Linked DNA regions of Homo sapiens: region 2 is reported to be linked to region 1. The links are microRNA targets in miRTarBase. Many come from high-throughput screens and were not tested one by one. Region 1 holds a microRNA gene; the other region holds the end of a gene's coding sequence. Distances are between the middles of the regions.
What was found. The annotated mature microRNA hsa-miR-519d-3p reads CAAAGUGCCUCCCUUUAGAGUG and lies in region 1 at 1,743-1,764, shown strand. An mRNA with a match to its seed (bases 2 to 7 or 8) in the 3' UTR can be bound and repressed. Matches are read on the target gene's strand: a 7mer-m8 pairs with bases 2 to 8, a 7mer-A1 pairs with bases 2 to 7 and ends in A, and an 8mer does both.

Region 2: miRTarBase lists RFXANK as a target of hsa-miR-519d-3p. The part of its 3' UTR that is shown has no 7-base or 8-base seed match.

The regions. Positions count from the first base shown.
Region 1 is chr19:53,711,658-53,715,053 of GRCh38, forward strand. MIR519D (microRNA 519d) reads left to right here and starts at 1,690; the gene lies at 1,690-1,777. It overlaps MIR517A (microRNA 517a), which reads left to right and starts at 611; the gene lies at 611-697.
Region 2 is chr19:19,201,399-19,204,596 of GRCh38, forward strand. It overlaps RFXANK (regulatory factor X associated ankyrin containing protein), which reads left to right. Exons shown (of 10, transcript NM_003721.4): 10 at 251-468. The coding sequence ends at 321. NR2C2AP (nuclear receptor 2C2 associated protein) reads right to left here and starts at 2,016. Exons shown (of 5, transcript NM_176880.6): 1 at 1,625-2,016; 2 at 1,393-1,483; 3 at 1,072-1,177; 4 at 933-1,000; 5 at 11-643. The coding sequence starts at 1,662. The coding sequence ends at 527. RefSeq lists a silencer at 992-1,258 and an enhancer at 1,922-2,216.

The DNA of each region.
Region 1 (3,396 bases):
ATGTTTGCCAGGCTGGTCTCAAACCCCTGACCTCAAGTTAGCCACCGGCCTCTGCCTCCCAAAGTGCTGGGATTACAGGCATGAGCCACCACGCCTGGCCTAATTTTTATATTTTCAGCAGAGGCGGGGTTTCACCATGTTGGCCAGGCTGGTTGCGAACTCCTGACCTCAGGTGATCTGCCCACCTCAGCCTCCCAAAGTGCTAAGATTACAGGCGTGAGCCACCACACATGGCCATTAACACCTTTTAGTCCATGGAAATTATTCTGGCACTGATTTATAAAGCCTCATGTGGGGTCAGGTAGAGTCAAAGGGGGACCTCAGTGTCCCTTGCAGATGGGATGTGCTCAGCAAGAGCACGGAGGTGGAGTGCATGGGGTTTGAGTTTTCACTGGGGAAATGAAACCAACATCTTGGGTGCATGACCAGGTCATATATGCAGTCATATATGCAATATGCATGGTGGTGGGTGCCTCTAATCCCAGCTACTCAGGAGGCTGACGCAGAAGAATCGCTTGAACCCAGGAGGCAGAAGTTGCCATGAGCCGAGATCCCACCACCGCATCCAGCCTGGGCGGCAGAGTGAGACTCCGTGTCAAAAAAAAGAAGATCTCAGGCAGTGACCCTCTAGATGGAAGCACTGTCTGTTGTATAAAAGAAAAGATCGTGCATCCCTTTAGAGTGTTACTGTTTGAGACAAGCAACGTTGAAGATGCTGCTGATCTTGGTAATACATTTGCAGAGCGTGCTTATCATCAGACTTGCATGATGTCGGGGTTCTGTTTGTGATTTGAAATTTTTCCAAGACAGGCTTTCTATTGCCCAGGCGTGGGTGGATAGCACCTTCCACCAAGATTTCTTGGGCTTAAGTGGTCCTCTTTTTATTTTTTGATTTTTTGAGACACACTCTTGTTTCGTTGGGAGTGCAGTAGCAGGATCTCTGCTCACCGGAAACTCCACCTCTCGGGTTCCAGTGATTCTCCCACCTCAGCCTGCCGAATTGTTGGGAATTCAGGCATCAGGCACCCACCATCGTGTCCTGCACTCTTGCTGCCCATCCTGGAGAGCACTGGCATGATCTAGGCTCACTGCAACCTCCGCCTCCTGGGTTCGAGTGATGCTTCTGCCTCAGCCTCCCAGGTAGTTGGGATTACAGGCACCTACTGCCCCACCCAGCTAATTTTTATGTTTTTAGTAGAGACGGGTTTCACCATGTTGGCCAGGCTAGTCTTGAACTCCCGCTTTCAGGTGATCCACTAGCCTGTGGTCTATCCTGGAGGATGTTTGTGTGTGTGACAATGTATATTCTTCAACATCTTAGACTCCATTTTGGATGCTCCCATCGGAACTATGTATCCCTGTGCTGGAACTCAAGTGAACACTCAGCTCAAAGTCCATTGCTGTTCTCTAGAAATCCAGCCCAGTTCTCTTGGTTAAATATAAGGTATGTGTAGTAGGCATTGCTTTTTCTCTTTAGAGGCAAAACTCAGGAGGGTTGCCCCTTGATGAACAAGGCTAACCTGCAGAGCCTTTGAAGAAAGGAACTGGAGATGGTCCTTTTAGGGGTTTATGTTCTGGATTCTAGAAAACAGGCAAACAGGGCCAATAAATGCATCTTTATTGTTGTGGCCATTTTAACCTGGTCAAGGAAGATTTCAACAAAAAACCCAGAGTGCTGGAGCAAGAAGATCCCATGCTGTGACCCTCCAAAGGGAAGCGCTTTCTGTTTGTTTTCTCTTAAACAAAGTGCCTCCCTTTAGAGTGTTACCGTTTGGGAAAAGCCACGTTGAAGATGATGCTGATCTTGGTAATACATTTGCAGACCATGCTTGTAATCAGACTTGGATGATGTTGGGAGTCTGTTTTTTTGTTTGTTTGTTTGGTTGGTTTTTTTGTTTGTTAGGTTTTTGTTTTTTGTTTTGGTGTGTGTGTTTTGTTTTGTGTTTTTTTTTTTTTCTAAGACAAGGTCTCTGTTGCCCAGGAGAGACTAGAGAAGCACTTTTTAAGATAGGCCTGTTGGGCTCAGATGGTCCTTTTATGGGATACAGTCTTGCTCTGTGACCCAGACTGGAGTGCAGTGGCGCGATCTTGGCTCAATGCAACCTCCACCTCCCGGGTTCGAGTGATTCTCCTGCCTCAGCTTCCTGGGTAGCTGGGATTACAGATGCCTGACATCACACTCGGCTAATATTTGTATTTTTCTTTTTTATTCATTCATTCATTTTTGAGATGGAGTGTTGCTGTCACCCAGCCTGGAGGGCAGTGGCATGATCCCGGCTGACTCCAACCTCTGCCTCTCAGGTTCAAGCCATTCTCCTGCCTCAGTCTCCTGAGTAGGTGGAATTACAGGCACCCACCACTACAACCAGCTACTTTTTGATTTTGATTTTTTTTTTTTTTTTTTTTTTTTAGTAAAGGTGGGGTTTCACCATGTTGGCCAGGCTAGTCTCAAACCCCTGACCTCAAGTGAGCCGCTGGCCTCGGCCTCCCAAAGTGCTGAGAATACAGGCGTGAGCCACCGGGCACAGCCATCAGCACCTTTTACTTTATGGAAATTTTTCTGGCACTGGTATAGAACCTCACGTGGGGTCAGGTGGAGTTGAGGGGACCTCAGTGTCCCTGCAGATGGGATGAGCAAGAGCACGGAGGTGGAGTGCATGGGGCTTCAGTGTTTATTGGGGAAATGAAGCTGAAATCTGGGTGCATGACCAGGAGATAAATGCATGAGACGGCGGTCTCACTATGCTGCCCTGGCTGAAGTGGGCTTAGATCCTCCTGCCTCTGCCCCTCCCCAGTCCTTGGTAGATGGGACCACATGTGAATATTAACCCCCCATGCACAGACAAGAAGAAAGTAAGGACTGTTCTTTGGTTCATACCTGACCCCAGTTAAACTTGTATTTTAGATAAACAATGTATTTGAGATGTACTTGAACAACAAACGATTTGCTGTTCAGGTGTGGGCATCTTTGTTTTGTTTTTTTTTTTCCTAATTTTAAATATGGGACTAGTGTGCATATGGTGGCTCTTGTCTGTAATTCCTGCACTTTGTGAGGCTGAGACAGGAGGATCACCTGAGATCAGTTGTTCGAGACCAGCCTGGCCAACATGAAGCCAGGAGGCTGAGCTTTCAGTGAGCTGAAATCTTCTGCTGCACTCCACCCTGGGCAACAGAGTGAGACTCAGTCTCAAGAAAGTAAAAAATAGGCCGGGCGCGGTGGCGCATGCCTGTAATCCCAGCACTTTGGGAGGCCGAGACGGGAGGATCACCTGAGGTCAGGAGTTCAAGACCAACAGGGCCAACATGGCAAAGCCTCGTCTCTACTAAAAATACAAAAATTAGCTGGGTGCAATGGTGCACATCTGTAATTCCAGCTACTCCGGAGGCTGAGGCAGG
Region 2 (3,198 bases), 35 Mb from region 1:
AATTCACACATTTTGCTTGGTAGGAAATATTTTTATATTAATTCTGAAAAGCTACAAAAGTGCATTTTTACAAACTTAGGGGAAGTTGAGGTTCCTGGGGTGAGTCCTCGGTTCTCCCAGCTTTGCTCTGTAATGCAGGTCTCTGCAAGGGTCCCTGTTTGTCCCCTAAGGGGAGAGCGCAGGTTGGCCTGTGCCTCCACCCCACTCCCGATTCAAGCTCACAGCCCACCTTTTCCCTGCCCCATCTCAGTGCAACAGGTGATCGAGAACCACATCCTCAAGCTCTTCCAGAGCAACCTGGTGCCCGCTGACCCTGAGTGAAGGCCGCCTGCCGGGGACTCAGACACTCAGGGAACAAAATGGTCAGCCAGAGCTGGGGAAACCCAGAACTGACTTCAAAGGCAGCTTCTGGACAGGTGGTGGGAGGGGACCCTTCCCAAGAGGAACCAATAAACCTTCTGTGCAGAATGAGGGACTTTGCTGTGCTTCCCGGAGGGCTTCCTGGAGGAGACAGCCCCTAGAGGTCTCACACCTTCTCCCCAAGCACCCGCAGGTGGTAGATGACCACACGGCCAAAAAAGTCAGTGGCATCCTCAAACGTCACCTTCAGCCGGTCCACTTCAGCAGCTGGTATGGGGAAAGTGTGAGCGTGGGCAGTCAAGGGAAACTGGTGATTTCTGGTTTCCCACCCGCAGGCCCCCACCCCTTCCAGACCCAGCTCACACTCCACCGATGTGGGCAACCTGGGGAAGCTGCAGGTCCCTCTAAGCCTCTCACACAGAACAGGTGGTCATCAGCACCATTTTACAGAAAAAGTGGAGTCCTAGAGGTCACGTGTTCAAGATCACACATCAGGGTTCCCATTCGGGTTTGGGTGAGTCCAAAGCTTCCAGAGGCACAGACCACCCACCCCAGAAGCAGGGGCAGGATATCTGAAGCGAGTTGTTGTCCTCAGGGTAGAAATCTACAATCTTGTGGAGAGCCTGAGTGCCCTGTGAACCTTCAGCAGAGAAAGGCAATGAGTGTCTGGGGTGACCCCTGGAACCCCTGCCACCCAGGGCCTTCTAGTACCTTCCAGGCAGCCCCGGCGACTGGAGAAGCCACCCTGAAACTGGATCTGCAGCTGGGAGACACGGATGAGCTGGGGAAACTCCAGCGTCACCCACTGGGAGGGGCCCTGGAAGCAGACAGGGAAACTGAGGCGCAAGCTCACTGCAGGCACAGAGCCCTGCTATGCCTGTCTCATTCACATAGTTCTTGGAATGGAGGGGAAGAAGGAAATTCGGCACATGTTCCTTTCCTGGCCACCCATGAGGGCCCCCTGACGTTCTCAAGGCATGAGATCTGAATCTGAATCACCCTAGAGATGGAGGGTCGAGGGAGGCGCCTCACCTGGTCTGAGTTCCAACATGTCTCCTCATCCTGGTCGAAAAGATGTTTTTTTCCAAACTGCCGAGTGTTGCGATTCAGCACTGAACTCACCCTGGAGGCACCAGGATCAAGGCGAAGAGAGGGGCTGAGACCAGCTCTCAGCTCCGCGGAGGGCCTGACCCCCAGATCTGTCCACTGAGGGCTCGACCCCAGGCTTAGGGCCTCGCCACTGCCTGTCCCCACAGACTCTTACCTGCTCACTGTCTCTGGACAAACCAAAGAGTGGGTCATGTCGGTTCCACAAGACCTCGCAGGGCTTAGGATTGGGCACAGCCTTGGTTCGAATCCCGGCGCCTCCTCAAGCTACAGGGCGGCGCGATCTTGGCTACGCCTTGGCCTGAACGTCCTCACCTGTAACTTGGGACGAGAACCGCCACTCCCTCGCCCACCCCAGTCCTAAATGTCGCCTCGATCAATCCCCTGCCGGAAAATTTGGGAGAGAGGATCAGGGAAACCGCCAATGCCCGGAGGCCAGGCCTTTCACAGGAAACAGATTTCCCGCGGGTTTCGGGGGCGGTGGCTTTTTGTGCGAGGCTGTTTCTCTGCGAATAGCTCTTGGAGCCAAATCTTGGGACCCGGAACCGCGTGGGCTTGGCGCATGCGTGTTGTAATTCAGGCGCCGACCGCGGACGCTCCAGAGGTGGGGTTTGGTTCGACCCCGCCCCTTCATGCTCGCTTCTTAAAGGGCCCGGGTTCGATGATTGAATTTACCTTGGTTCCCTTGAAGCTGTAGGGAAAAGGCTGGCTGCGCGCACGGGGCGCTGTCCCTCGGCGCCCGAAGGTGTAGAGCACTGATTTTGACTGATTTTGGAATCCGAAAGACTTCCTTTTTTTTTTTTTTTTTTTGAGGCGGAGTCTCACTGTCGCCCAGGCTGGAGTGCAGTGGCACGATCTCCGCTCACTGCAAGCTCCGCCCCCTGGGTTCACGCCGTTCTCCTGCCTCAGCCTCCCAAGTAGCTGGGAATACAGGCGCCCGCCACCACGCCCGGCTAATTTTTCGTATATTTAGTAGAGACGGGGTTTCACCGTGTTAGCCAGAATGGTCTTGATCTCCTGACCTCGTGATCCAGCCGCCGGGGCTTCCAAAGTGCTGGGATTACAGGCTTGAGCCACCGCGCCCGGCCTTTTTTTTTTTTTTTTTTTGAAGTGGGGTCTCACTGTCACCCAGGCTGGAGTACAATGGTGGGATCGCGGCTCTCTGCGACCTCTGCCTCCCAGGCTCCAGCAATCCTCCTACCCAGCTTCCCGAATAGTTGGAACTAGTAGGCGCGCGCCACCACGGCAGGCTATTTTGTTTGTTTGTTTGTTTGTTTGTTTTTTGGTAGAGATGAGGTTTCGCCATGTTGCCCAGATTGGTCTCGAACTCCTGGGCTCAAGTGATCCGCCCACCTCAGCCTCCCAAAGTGCTGGGATTACAGGCGTAAGCCACCGCGCCCGGCCAGAGAGACTTCCTATGACAATGTCTTTCTTCCTACTCTAACCTACTCTACCCTAACGGCTACCCTAACCTACTCTAACCTACTCTACCCTAACCACTAAATGCAGCCTGGGAATCCCCGAACTTCACTGCCTCCCGGAGGCCAAAGGCAGAGTTGTGGAAAAGGCCACGATGTTGGGAGTATCTGAAGTCCTCATCAACCCTTTTTGTTCTTGTTGGGACAGAGGAGCCCTGGCCTCCAAGTTTGTCTTTCCCAGAAAATGCTGCTGGGACGTCAAGGAAGGCTTCTTGGAGGAGGGAGCATGCGAGGTCGGGTGTTTTTTGTTGTT